Homo sapiens: one gene and its partner. The protein of the gene in region 1 interacts with the protein of each later gene in a pairwise test. Each region holds a gene or a part of one and is shown in the gene's direction. Other genes may lie near its edges.

Region 1 (7,274 bases):
GTGGGGAGGAAATGCCTTTTGTCTTTCACATTCTTATTCTGCATGCCCAAGTCCACAGCACAGGCTTTGTTAATGTATAAAATGATGATCTCATGATACTGTTCCAAGAAGTATTTATCCCATTGGGATCCTTGGCCATGTGAACATAACGGACATCAGGTACTGGAGCCTGGGTACACGTGGCAGGGTACTCAGAACACTACTGGGGGAGGTGGGCAAGTTAGTGGCCTGCCCACGTATTACAGTTAGATTAAAAAGTAATAATCCCAGTAAAATGTTCTATTTATTATGTCTTTTAATGCTCTTCTTTCAAATATCTCCCTTTTTGTGTGATAATATTTATTGTCATCATTTTTGTGTTATGACTTTTTGTTTGTCATGACCGGCTAACTGCATGAAAAATAGCTTACTATAAGCTTATAAAAATACAAATATATAGGTACACAATATGATATAATATATACACATGTATATAGCAATTGTATATGTATAGAGAGAGCAATTGCTACATGCCAGGTGCTTTGTATACAGTATCTCATTTATTCATAGCATCTTTGTGAAGCAGGTGATATTGTCTCCTTTTTATAGTTGAGAAAATGGAAGCTCCCAGAACTTCATTGGTTTGTCCCAGGCCACACAGCTTGCACGTGATATTGCTGGGGCCAGAACCCAGGACTGCCTGGCTCTTCAGCTCATGTCCTCCCTTAGCCCTGTGCCACACTGCGTGTTTCACAAGTCCAAATTGCTTGATAATGAAATGTAACAACAGAGAAGGCTCACTGGGGAAAAGTTAAGAAGGTGGTTTGGTTTGTTACAGAACGTGAATGAGAATTACAGGAATGCCTTTGGAAGGAAGTATTCTTGCTGCTTGCACTTCTATTTCTGATGAGTGTCTGCATGATAATAGAAAGTAAAACATACACTGAAAGACAAGAGCTGGGTTCAAAAGTCTGGGGCTCAGGTGGACAAAACATTCTTGTTGCTCGACACCCAGTAAGTCTAGTGTGCATGATTGTGCTTTGTCTTCAGAATCTAAGCTTACCTTCCACCATCTTGACTTTACCAATTGTACTATTCTGCCTGAGACACTTACCCTTGCTATATCATATCTCTGTAAGGCAGAGACAAGATCCATGAGAGCTTTAGGTTTGTGCCAGTGATAAGGAATGCTCTAGAATGGCTTGCCCAGAGTGACACTACTTAGTCAGAGATGCCCCTTGCCCTCGGGGAGCTCGCTTTAACTGCATAGGTAGGATTTTGGCAGTGAGGCCCTCAGAAGAGAAGGGAGCCATAATTGGTAAAGATATGAGGTCTGAAGTTTTAGAAAACTCTTTTGCAAGCATTATGAATTCCAGATAGAGGGCTATTTGCTGTTATAGCCTGTCCAGCTGTGCGTTTGCCTAGAAAGTGCCAAGTAATAGTGTTTTTCTCTGTTACTGAAACTAGACATGTAGCTTAGTGCTACCTCCTGACCATCATTTATCAAAGTACATTACCTCGTACATTGGCAATTCACTTTGGCTGTTTGGGCAGGTGTGGAGTGGTCTGGTGGGGGCTGAAGTTCTGAATCATGTCAAGACTTGGTGGCAAATTCGAGCAGAACTTTAAATTAGAGCTGATATTATATCCAAAAGATTTTCTCTCTCCTATATATCTTAGCTCTACAATCCTAGAATGTGAAAGCTGGAAGGGAGCATAAAAAATACTGATTTAACACCCTGTATTTTTTGGTTGAGAGAAAAAAAAATACTCTACTGGGGAAGTGACTGCTTTTTCATGTTTACAAATGAAACTGCATCGAGCACCCTTTCTAAGTGAGGCACTATTCTGGGCAGTGGGAACCCAGGGATGAATTGGGATTTGGATCTTGCCATGAAGGTACAATTCGTATGGTATATAAAATGAGCATGGCCATCACCAGTGCTGGTTGGGTTTTACTCGCTCATGTGGAATCACTGGATGAATGTAGTATACTTACCTTAATACACAAAATATGATTGATGTTAAAATCTTTAAAATACCTGAAGTAACTTTGGCTCTTAGTCTGAGAATAAGAGAAAAAAAAGACTTTCAAATCTGAGAATGACATACGTTAGCCTCAGTAGAGAAAGCAACTTCTAATCAGAGGAATGGGGAGCGCAGAACCTGTGCTGGAATGCAGGAGTCCTGACCGACCCCATGAGTTATCATTACAGTCAAAATGTGTATAATGGAATTGAGCTCTGTCATCTGAACTGTTTCTGAAGGCATATGTTTGAATCTTCCCCAAGTCCAGTACAAAACAAACACACCTCTAGTGTAAATAAACTACACAAGTAAATCAAATCAGCAATAAAAAAAATTCCTCGTAAATGGGATTTAAGGACTACCTTAAGTTGGGAAGGGAAAAAAGGGAGGCTTGAAAAGGCATATATCCACCAAATTCCTGCATGACATATTTTAGTGTGGCTAAATGTAGACAAAGTCTATCAAGCAGGATATAGTAAGCACAGTTAATGCTGTATATTCTGGGGCAGTTTGAAGACAGTCCTTTTCTCCAGGTATGCTATTATTGGGTCAGAACAAATAGGTGGGAGCTTCTGGGCTGGCTCTGGCAGGTGGTCTTTGTCCTTTCTTCATTGTAGACCAGAATGTGGAGACATCACACTTTAACTTTGCAGGCAACTATATCCACGAAGATGAGAGGTGAAGCCTCTTTGGAGGCTGCATAGACAGTTTGCAAATTAATTTTGTGTTCAGCTGGTCCTTCATAAAGCATGTAAACTCTAATTGCCTTAAATAAACATCTTTTTTTTTTTTTTGGTTTTTTTTTGGTGACACGAAATGATCCGGTGCATTATCAGATCATTACTATTCAGGGGCTGGTATGAATTGAGTGACTTTTCCTTGTGCTTATTTTCCAGAAAGCACTAATATTCTGTTGGCTTTCTTTCCCCAAGCAGGCCTGGCAAATTCCGGTGATGCCAGGTCACCAGCAACTTCTTGGCAAACTCAGGTGCTTCTCTTCTGTGACAAGAAGAGCCCAGGTTATCTCAGAGCTTTGGGCATGTGTCCAGTGATCACTTGGAGCTGACTCAGTGTGGACCATTAGGCAAAGATATGTCTGTTTGACAGAATGACAATGGGAGCCATAATAGGAATCAATTTGGTTCCCAAAGTTGGATCCTCATTTAGCATTAGCAGAAGGCTGGGCCTTGTGGCTGTAGCAGCAACAGCTGCTGAGCTTTGATTATTTAGGATAGGGGCGAGATCATGAATAAATACTGGCCTTGCCCCAGTGTTTGTGTTTGTCAAATACCAAAAAATAAAATGGGAATCCTAAATTGGCTTGCATGCTGCCACCCAGCTTTCTTACCACCTTCATTTCTAGCCTGAATCCAAGAGGAGAGGAGCTTGGGTAGAGGTTATAACCCAGGAGGAACCTGGCAGATATCAGTGAGTACAGGCAGGACTGAGGGCTATACAGAGGTGGGGTTCACTGATACTTAGGCTGTTGACTCAAAGCAATAGTAAGCAATAGTGATCTCAGTGAGATCAGTGAGCAGTAGTGATCTCACTGTTCTTGAGAGGTGCTAAAGGCCACCAGAAGATTTTCTTGTCAGTATCCTGGCTTTGGAGATGACAGATGTGTGCAGTGGTGGGAAAGTTGCGCTCAGAGAGACCTCAGGCAGGTGTGGGACTGAGCAGGGTGTGGGTGGGGATCAGAACATTGCCCTGTGGCTTCATATTTAAAAATTATGCCTAAGACTTTGTGCTACACAAAAATAAAAACAAGAAAACTAAGGGGGGCACTTAGTAAGCTAAGTCATAGCAAGGCTCATTATCTAATCTTTATATACTTTTCTATTTGTTCGTCTCCTGTCAGTACTGCTGTGTGGCTCTGTTGCTTGGTGCCCTTGCAAATCTATCTGTTTTGGGAAAAGGAACATGAGCTTAATGGATTTAGGAGAGTGGAGAGGAGTGAGTCCATGAGTCCAGGAATCAAATGAGAGCAGCTGTGGATTCAATAGGGCTTCAGCTCTGAAAGCCCAGAGGGGAGGAATAAGCAAGTGGGTGTTAATATTAATCATTGATATTGCTATCACTGCCTCTTATTTATTGAGTACTTATCTTTGACATTGTGTTGAATACCTTCTGCAAATGATCTCAGTACATGTGACAAGTCTTTGAGGTAGTAGCATTAGCCCCATTTTACAGATAAGGGAATGGAGTTTGAGAAATCTTATGGTCATGCAGTTGGCAACTGCTGGAGAGAGGGTTTAAATCTAGGTCAGTGTGGCTTTGTGCACACTGCTTTTTCTGCAAGTTGTTGGTAGGAGAGAGGTCACCTTAATTTACCAGAATTTTGTTTTCTGTAAAGAGAATGACTTTACCCAAGAGTTGAACATTCTCTTTCCAGAAATTTAATGAGCAGTTCTGCTCCACGATGGTGCTTGGAAGTTTAGCTAAAACTGCTGGTTATAAACTGAGAGCAACCTGTGTGTGGATTGAAAGGGAAGGGTGTGCAGTCATTGGTAAGCATTTTCCTATGGTGTGACTCTGACGGGCAAGGGTGCCATCGCTAAGATGGAAAGATACTCCTGCAAATTGAAATGTTATAAATAGGGAATGGATCCTTTGCTTTCCTGCTACTTGGGTCATTTTGAAAAATATTTGTTTAGTGAATAACGGTGTGACATGGGTTCTGCTTAGCAATGTAGTTTCAACTCACTTATCCTGAGAACTTGAGGACCTTTTAGGGTTTTCTTTGCTGTCAGCCTAGTTATTTGTATAGGGTAAGTGCACGGGCTTGTACCATCTGTTGTTAGTATTTCCTTTTTTCACTTTTCATTTCAGGTCTCTTAGAAACTGGTTTAACTCCGTGATTTGAGGGGTGTCAGAGGTCATGTGTTTGTGTGTGGTTTATCATACTGACTGGTAGCACTCGCTTAAGTAAGCTTTTAAACATCGCTTCGTAGGTTGTAGAGACTGAGTAAACTAGGAAAAGGCAAAGGGTGAGAGGAAATTATTTAATCATTTGTCCTGGAAAACAGGTTGGAATTCTGGTCTCCCAAATAACCTTTGGGACAAGACCATTGTTTGATTTCATCCTATACACGGCCAGGTCAGCTTGCCCAGGATTAGGAGAGGTGGGGGTGTTGGGAAGGAAGAAAGAGATTCCAAGGCAAATGGTAACAGGTCCCCAGAATAATTTAGCTGGATATTTTTGTTAATCCGTTTTGCGATGCTATAAAGGAATACCCAAGACTGGGTCATTTATAAAGAAAAGAGGTTTATTTCACTCATGGTTCTGCAGGCTGTACAAGAAGCATGGATTTAGCATCTGTTTGGCTTCTAGTAAGGCCTCAGGAAGCTTTTAGTCATGGCAGAACGGAAGGGCGGCTGGTGTGTCACATGGTGAGAGAGGGAGCAAGAGAGAGGGAAGGAAGTGCTAGGCTCTTTAAGCAACCAGCTCTGGTAGGAATTAACAGAGAACTCAGTTATCACCAATGGGACAATGCCAAGCCGTTCATGACAGATCCACCTCATGACCCAAACACCTCCCGTAAGACTCCACCTCCAACATTGTGGATCACATGTCAGCATGAGATTTGGAGAGGACATACATCCTAACTATATCATGATTCAATCTTTGCTATTCTTTTATGTGTAGAAGTCCATGACTCCTCTCTCCTCTTGGGTTTAAACCTTGCAGACCTGGTCAAGGAAAAATAACAAAATAGACAAGGTTTGTGTGTGTTTCCTCATTTGAAAAGCTCAGGGCTAATATTGTTTTTCAGCTTCTCAAAGACAATATGCTCTTCATCATTGTGTTTCTGGCTCAATGTCCTGACACATAACAGTTAAGGAATAAATGATTAATGAGTTTCAGAAGGATCTTGATTTAAACTAACTGTTCATTCATTCTAGTCAAGTTAGAGGGTAGTTGGAGCTAGCATTACATCTCAGTACTTTGAACAACAACTGAAGGATAGATGAGTTATTAAGAAAGAACAATTTAAACTTATGTAAGTTGTCAGACTAGAAGAACCTAGTGGGTGTAGAATTCTCTTTATGTGTCATTTCAATTCAATTCCCTTTGTTTATAGTATTTATGTATAGTTAAAACTAATGTGTATGTACCTGCTTGTGTTCTGCTTTTCTTAGTGCAGCTATTTTCTGTTATCTTACAGAGATATATTTATATTTTATCCGTTTAATAAAATTTATGGGGCATCTATTAAATGTCAGGCATTGCTAGACTTTGGGTATATGATATGAAAAACTATTCATGGGCTTTCCTTCTTGGACGTCGTAAAAGGGGTGATGCTTAATGAGAACCAGCCTTTTAAAGAACAGAAGGAAGAGTATGCCAGGAGGAAGGAACAGTATGTGGGATGGCCCAGAGGGAGGAAACAGCCTACATGTTCAGAGAATAGAAAGATTACGGTGGTTGCTGCTCAGTGAATGGGGACAACGGATCGAGCTTGAAAAGGCAGGCAGGGGCCATATCATACAGGATCCTTTAAGGGATCAGGACATCACTCAGAGTGCAGTGGGAAGCAGGGTAATACTATGACTTGAATGCAATTAAAAAAAATAAAAACTCACTGGCAGCTCTGTGGAGAATGGATTAGAGAAGGGGAGCATAGAAGCTGGAGGCCAGTTAGCACATTTTACAGTAATTCAGGGCAGAGATGATGGTGCTAGAGCAGTGACAATGAAGATGGGGATTACTAGATAGAAATTTTGGAGAGATTTGCTGATGGCGAGATAGGAAGGAGCAGGTGATATTGAAAGCAGTGATCAAGGTTGATTCCTAGGTTCCCACATTGAGCAGTCTATGGTGGTCTGATTACTTTGAAAGGGAAGGCTTGGGGAGCAGTGGGTGAAACTGAGAGGCCTTAAGTTTGGATGCGTGTTGAGTAATTTTGAGGTGCCTGTGATTCACGTCAGTTCAAGCCTTTATGGCTGCCACTTTTTAATAGCTCTATCCCCTCCAGTCGGCACTGTGTTGAGCCATTCTATTGTTGTTGGATGCTTGGCTTGCTGTCTCTTTGGTCTTCCACTGCAAGCAGCACTAATGAAGTTGTCTCTGTATAAACCAATTGCTCTTTTTCCTTTTTGGTTGTTTCCCCAAGGTGTGTTCCTCAAAGTGGAATTGCTGGGTCAAAGGAAATAAATGAACAGTTTTATGGCTTTTGCTGCACATTGCCAGATTGTAGTCCAGAAGAACTGAATTTGCCAGACTGTAGTCCAGAAGAACTGAATTAATTTAGAATGCCACCAGCCAC
Region 2 (7,274 bases), on another chromosome or scaffold:
CTTGCTTGTAGAGCGGGAGAGGTTTTGTCCCAGAATGTGAAGAAATCTGGAAATGTGGTCGAGGACAGGGAGAAGGCTAAGGTGGACTCCAAGAGGAAATCATGTATCTGTTAAATTTGTACATTAATTCAACAGAGATTGACTGAGCACCTACTGTGTGCCATGTGCTGTGCCTGGCCTTGGGGATAAAGGAGTGAATGAGGCAGAATAGAATCATAGCATTTAGATCCTAGTGAGGGAAGAAGAGAGGAAATGAAGGAGGGAGAAAGAGGAGTAAACATGTCAAGTAGTGATATGAGCTATGATAAAAATAAATAAATAAATAAAGGGCTGGGCATGGTGGCTCACACCTGTAATTTCAGTGCTTTGGGAAGCCAAAGTGGGAGGATCACTTGAGCCCAGGAGTTCGAGACCAGCCTGGGCAACATAGCAAAACGTTGTCACTACAAAAAAAAAAAAAATTGCTGGGCATGGTGATGTATACTGTAGTCCTAGCTACCAGGGAGGCTGAAGCAGGAGGATCACTTGAACCCAGGAGTTCAAGGCTGTAGTGAGCTATGATCATACTATTGCATTCCAACAGACCCTATTTTTTTTTTTTTTTTTGAGACGGACTCCAGGCTGGAGTGCAATGGTGCAATCTTGGCCCACTGCAACCTCTGCCTTCCGAGTTCAAGCGATTCTCCTGCCTCAGCCTCCTGAGTAGCTGGGATTACAGGCACTCACCACCACGCCCAGTTAATTTTTGTATTTTTAGTAGAGATGGAGTTTCACCATGTTGGTCAGGCTGGTCTCGAACTGCTGACCTCATGATCTGCCAGCCTTGGCCTCCCAAAGTGCTGGGATTCCAGGCGTGAGCCACCATGCCCAGCCAAGACCCTATCTCTAAAAAAAAAAAAAAAAAAAAAAAAAAAAAGAGTAGGAGATGGAGAAGGGCGGGTGCCGATTTAGACAGTGTGGTTTGGGAAGGCCTCTCTGAGGAGATGACATTTGAGCAAAGATTTATAAAGCTTTGTGAAGATGTGTGGGAAGTCTATCCTGAGTGAGAAGAACAGCAAGTGCCAAGACCCTGAGACAAGAATTTGCTTGGCACGTGGGAGGGACAGAGGGAGCCCAGTGTGGGAAATGAGGGAAGGGGAATAAGTGAGGGGAGAGGGCTGAGAACTGAGGGGCTGGATGTGCAGAGCCCTGAGGGCCGTGGGGAAGACTTTGGTCTGTACTCTGGATGGGTTGGGAGCTGGAGGAGGGTTCTAAGCCAAGAAGGGCTATGATGTGACTGCAGTTCTAAAAGGAGCATGCCGGCTGATTCCTGGAGACACCTTCTATGTGGCACTTCCCTGGGCTGTGTATAATCTGATCATTCATGTAGTCGTTCATTCACCACGCACTGAGTTCCTGCCACGTGCCAGGGCCCTGTGCTGGGTGCTGACGTCACAGAGAGCAGTACTCCTTAGAGTCGAGTGGGAAGAGACAGAAGTGCCTCTAGGCACCACCCTGGCTGGGCACAGGTTGATTCCTGCTCATGGATACATTTTATTTTATTTTCATTTTTATTTATTTATTTACTTTTTTTGAGATGGAGTCTCACTCTCTGTCACCCAGGCTGGAGTGCAGCGGCGCCATCTCAGCTCACTGCAGCCTTTGCCTCCTGAGTTCAAGTGATTCTCCTGCCTCAGCCTCCCGAGCAGCTGGGATTACCGGCGCCCACCACCACGCCTGGCTAATTTTTGTATTTTTGGTAGAGTCAGGGTTTCACCACGTTGGACCAGGCTGGTCTCGAACTCCTGACCTGAGGTGATCCGCCCGCCCCGGCCTCCAAAAGTGCTGGGATTACAGGCGTGAGCCACCGCGCACAGCCTCTATTTTTATTTTTTATATTTCCAGAGTCAGGGTCTTGCTCTGTTGCCCAGGCTGGCGTGTAGTGGCACAATCATGGCTCACTGCAGCCTTGAACTCCTGGGCTCAAGCAATCCTCCTGTCTCAATCTCCTTGAGTAGCACCAATGCGCACCACCACACCTGGCTAATTTTAAAACTTTTTGTAAAGACAGGGGTCTTGCTATGTTGCCCAGGCTGGTCTTGAACTTATGGGCTCAAGCAATCCTCCTGCCTCAGCCTCCCAACGCATTGGGATTACAGATGTGAACCACTGTGCCCAGTCATGGATACATTTGATGTGGACTGCATGGTATTTGAAACAATTGAGAGAGTTTTATTAAAAACCAGGACTTCTGGCTTTATTTATTTTTGCTCTGGAGATTCAGCCAAACTTCACTCATACTCTCACAGGGCAACAGTGGGTGAGGTCAGTAGCAGTCCCCCTGGACATGCAGACTCCAAGGTACTGCACTCTCTGTCAGGCTTTTGTTTCAGGGGGTGGAGTTTGCTGCTATATGGGAATTGCCTGATCTTCCAACTTTTCAAGACACACTGGGCATCGAGATTTTTATGTGAACCCACCTGAGTTTGAAACCTCATGCTGGCCACACAGAAAATGCCTGTGGGTTGACTGTGGCCCATGTGCCACCAGCTTGAGACCCTGCATTAGAGGCTCTAAAAGGCAAAGACCTACAGCTCCCCTACTGAGGCTGGAAGGAGGGGGTCAGTTGCGTGGGGTGACCTTGGACCTCTTGCCACCCCAGCTTTCACCTTCTTCGATCCCAATGACCCGGCGTGCCAGGAGATCCTGTTTGACCCTCAGACCACCATCCCCGAGCTGTTTGCCATTGTGCGCCAGTGGGTGCCCCAAGTCCAGCACAAGATAGACGTCATCGGCAATGAGGTGAGAACACTGGGGAAACCAGGGGGAGAGGGGATGCGGTTCCCCACATGTGTGGGTGACCCTCCCTGCTCCCCTGGTACTCACAGATTCTGCGCCGAGGCTGCCATGTGAACGATCGTGACGGGCTGACCGACATGACACTGCTCCACTATGCGTGCAAAGCTGGGGCCCACGGAGTCGGTGAGGGCCCCCTACCCCCAAGTCATAAGCCCCAAAGCCTAGGCCCCCAGACCCAACACGCTGAAAACCACCCAGAACTCAGGCCCCATCTGGAACCCGAAGCTTCGGATCCCAAAGTATAGTCCCTGAAGCCCAGGGTCCTCCCCGTGCACTGGGCCCATGCTCTGGAATGGGGGTTCCAAGCTGACCCGGCCTATCGCGCAGGGGACCCCGCGGCAGCCGTGCGCCTCTCGCAGCAGCTGCTGGCGCTGGGCGCAGATGTGACGCTGCGCAGCCGCTGGACCAACATGAACGCGCTTCACTACGCGGCCTATTTTGATGTGCCCGACCTCGTGCGTGTGCTGCTGAAGGGTGCGAGGCCGCGAGGTGAGGAGGAGAGCCCTGGCTGGGAGGGGGCAAGGACCTGGGTGAGGGACGCGGAGACCCAGGTGAGGCCAGGCTGCGAGGGGAAGGAGGACGGTGATCTGAGGAGATAGCGGGAGGTTGGAGGCGTGGGAGAGGGGGCTCAGGGACTACCACTCTAGGGAGGGTCGGGGCTGCCAAGGGAGAGGGGGGCTCCGAGGTGGGGGCGGGGCTCTGCGTCGGAGGCTCTGGGACCTGCAAGTTAAGAGATGAGCCCCGAGGTGGGAGGAGGGCTGGGGTCCCACAGGCGCTCACCCGGAACCCCTCCTCTTGCCCACTTCCAGTGGTGAACTCCACGTGCAGTGACTTCAACCACGGCTCAGCCCTGCACATCGCTGCTTCCAGCCTGTGCCTGGGCGCCGCCAAATGTTTGCTGGAGCACGGCGCCAACCCTGCGCTGAGGGTACTGCCACCCTTGCCCAGAACCCGTTACCCTCCTGCTCCCTTCCTCCCCCACTTCCCTCCAGCAGGTCTCTGCGTTTCCCGTGACTCCCCAAATACTACAAATGCCGTCTGTACATTCAGCAAATGCAATAACAGCTGAAATATGCCTAGTGTTCATTACATGTCAGGTGAAGTCTATTATAAGCCTTGTTTTACAATGGGGAAACTGAGGCAGAGATTAAGGGATCTGCCCAGGGTCATCCAGCCTATCCCATGGCAGTGCATAACAGCATTTCAAGGTCATGAGGAAAGTTGGGCTAGGCCTTCTGTGAATGAGAGGGTTGGTCCTCTCCTAAGCCCTCAATATGATCTTTGACCTCTGACCTATGCATTACCAGGCTCCATCCACAATGCTAATTACCCTGCAGCCGTCCAGGCACATGTATGTTGGGGTAACATGGCCTGTGCCCCTGAGACCCTGCCTCTCCCCATTTTCCACTGGCCCAGAGTTTGACTCCTGACTCTATACCACAGGAGCCCACTCTCACTCTCTCTAATTTTTTTTTTTTTTTTTTGAGACAGAGACTGGCTCTGTCATCCAGGCTGGAGTGCAGTGGTGCAATCTCGGCTCACTGCAACCTCTGCCTACCAGGTTCAAACGATTCTCCTGCCTCAGCCTCCCGAGTAGGTAGAATTATAGGCATGCGCCACCACACCCGGCTAATTTTTGTATTTTTAGTAGAGATGGAGTTTCACCATGTTGGCCAGGCTGGTCTCGAGCTCCTGACCTCAGGTGATCTGCCCACCTCGGCCTCACAAATTGCTAGGATTATAAGCATAAGCCACTGCACCCAGCCCACAGGAGCCCATTCTCAATGTTCATCTCCCACATGTCCTCATTACAGGCTTGGGGTCTCCAGAGATTGCCTCCCTGAGGGCGTGACCTACAGCACTGAAGTGTGGCCCTCATCCCTACTGCCTACACCCCCAGGCCCACCCTCAATTACTTGACACACCCCCAGCCCTGGGTCTCAGGGGTGGGTTTCCCTGGGGATGTGGTCTGCACCTTTCTGCCCTGCCCCTTCTTTTTTTTTTTTTTTGAGACGGAGTCTCGCTCTGTCACCCAGGCTGGAGTGCAGTAGCATGATCTTGGCTCACTGCAACCTCTGCTTCCCGGATTCAAGCGATTCTCCTGCCTCAGCCTCCCGAGTAGCTGGGATTACAGGCACACGCCACCACACCCGGCTAATTTTTGTATTTTTAGTACAGACGAGGTTTCACCATGTTGGCCAGGCTGGTCTTGAACTCCTGACCTCAAGCATCTGCCTGCCTCGGCCTCACAACGTACTGGGATTACAGGCGTGAGCCACCTTACCCCGCCTTGCCCTGACCCTTCTTATTCCCAGGTTGGCCCAGGATATGACCTAGTCTTACCCCTGCATCACCCAGACTGGTGGTCTCTAGGGGCAGGGCCTCCATGGGGGTGTGACCTGTGCCACTGAGTCCCTGCCTTCTTTTCCCATTGGCCCCCAGAATCGAAAAGGACAGGTGCCGGCGGAGGTGGTCCCAGATCCTATGGACATGTCCCTGGACAAGGCAGAGGCGGCACTGGTGGCCAAGGAGCTGCGGACGCTTCTGGAAGAGGCAGTGCCACTATCTTGCGCCCTCCCCAAGGTCACGCTACCCAACTATGACAACGTCCCAGGCAATCTCATGCTTAGCGCACTGGGCTTGCGCCTGGGAGACCGCGTGCTGCTGGATGGCCAGAAGGTCAGGGGCTGGGATGTGTGTTTGCATGGTGGGTGGGGGTGGGACTCAGCCCCTTAATCCCTTGGAGCTGCGTCCTCGGGCAGAGTGCAGTCCCTGCCCTTTGTCTACTTGCCGCCCTAACTATCCACCCAGTACTTGATTTTATCTCAGTTGTTCCGTGGGTGTCTCCTTTGAGCCTCACCCTGTGCTGAGCTCTCCATCCAGGGTGGGAAACAACCCGTCATCTGACAGTGACGGCCGAGAGTGGTCATGGCTGCCATGGGGAGGGGTGAGCAGAGTGATCTGCGCAGCTCTGTGCACCTGTGGCTCCCCCCGGGTCTTGTGGTCCTCGATCAGGCCCCTCTGCTCTCAGAGACAAGTCTGGCTAGGCAAGTCCAGGCCAGAGTGATTGGGGTGTGATGGGGAATGTACCCAAATTGCAGATGTGGAGGAGCAAGCCAGGGAAAGAAAGGGAGAAAGGAGTCTCAGCTTGGGGGAGCGGGTATCACAGCTGAGAGGGCAGAGAGAATCTTCATTTATCCAGGGACTCCAATTTCACTCATTTCCCGGTGTCCCTTGGGCTCCATACGGGACCCAGTCTGTCCTTAGGGAGGGAGGGCTGTGTCTGCCCCCGCCCTGCTGTCATGGGGCTCCACTTGTAATGAAGGGGAGACAGTCAAGAAAGTAAACCTATGGTTGAGATGATTTCTGGGCTGGGCACGGTAGTTCACACCTCTAATCCCGGCATTTTGGGAGGCCGAGGTGGGAGGATCACTTGAGGTCAGGAGTTGTTAGAGACCAGCCTGGGCAACATAGTGAGATCCTGCCTCTATTGAAAAAAAAAAAAAAAGGTAATTTCTGGTAGCAACAAGGGCTGTCAACACCATTACATGTTTGGATTTAGTAAATTGTCCCTGGCTGAATGCTGGAGTGGTTTTAGCTGGGGTGTTCTGAGAAGGCTTCTCTGAGGAGGTGATGTCCAAACTGAGATAGGAAAGAACTTCCTTTGCAAAGATAAGGAAGCAGAGGATGCAGTAGGTATGGAGACCCAGAGGCAGGAAGGGGCAGTGTTGACGAGGGGAGTTATGGGAAGGGCGGTGAGGTGGAGAGGTCAGCAAGGCTGGGTCACAGCAGACCTGTAGGCTACTGGAAGGAGTTTGAATTTTGTTTTTGTGTTTTTGAGACAGGGTCTTGCTGTCACCCAGGCCAGAGTGCAGTGGCACGATCTTGGCTCACAGCAACCTCCACCTCCCAGATTCAAGCTATTCTCATGTCTTAGCCTCCCACGTAGCTGGGATTACAAGTGTGTGCCAACAAGCCTGGGTTTATTTTTATTATTATGATTATTATTATTATTATTTTGAGATGGAGTCTTGCTCTGTCGCCTAGGCTGGAGTGCGGTGGCGCGATCTCAGCTCACTGCAAGCTCTGCCTCCTGGGTTCATGCCATTCTCCTGCCTCAGCCTCCCGAGTAGCTGGGACTACAGGTGCCCACCACCATGCCTGGCTAATTATTTGTATTTTTAGTAGAGAGAGGGTGTCACTGTGTTAGCCAGGATGGTCTTGATCTCCTGACCTCGTGATCCGCCCGCCTCAGCCTCCCAAAGTGCTGGGATTACAGGCGTGAGCCACCGCGCCTGGCCTTTTATTTTTATTTTTAGTAGCAACGGGTTTCACCATATTGGCCAGGCTGGTCTCAAACTCCTGCCCTCAAGCGATTCGCCCGCCTTGGCTCCCAAAGTGCTGGGATTACAGGCATAAGCCACTGCGCCCGGCCC

Evidence for each region.
Region 2: the proteins of TNFRSF21 (region 1) and CLIP3 interact in a two-hybrid assay, tested with the Homo sapiens proteins (one study listed by BioGRID).

Annotation. Positions count from the first base shown.
Region 1 is NC_000006.12:47,299,822-47,307,095, reverse strand, and holds part of TNFRSF21 (tumor necrosis factor receptor superfamily member 21 precursor), read left to right. Parts: intron 1-7,274.
Region 2 is NC_000019.10:36,022,639-36,029,912, reverse strand, and holds part of CLIP3 (CAP-Gly domain-containing linker protein 3), read left to right. Parts: intron 1-2,641; coding exon 2,642-2,781; intron 2,782-2,867; coding exon 2,868-2,961; intron 2,962-3,165; coding exon 3,166-3,327; intron 3,328-3,647; coding exon 3,648-3,766; intron 3,767-5,280; coding exon 5,281-5,517; intron 5,518-7,274. UniProt on the Homo sapiens protein: Functions as a cytoplasmic linker protein. Involved in TGN-endosome dynamics. May modulate the cellular compartmentalization of AKT kinase family and promote its cell membrane localization, thereby playing a role in glucose transport in adipocytes.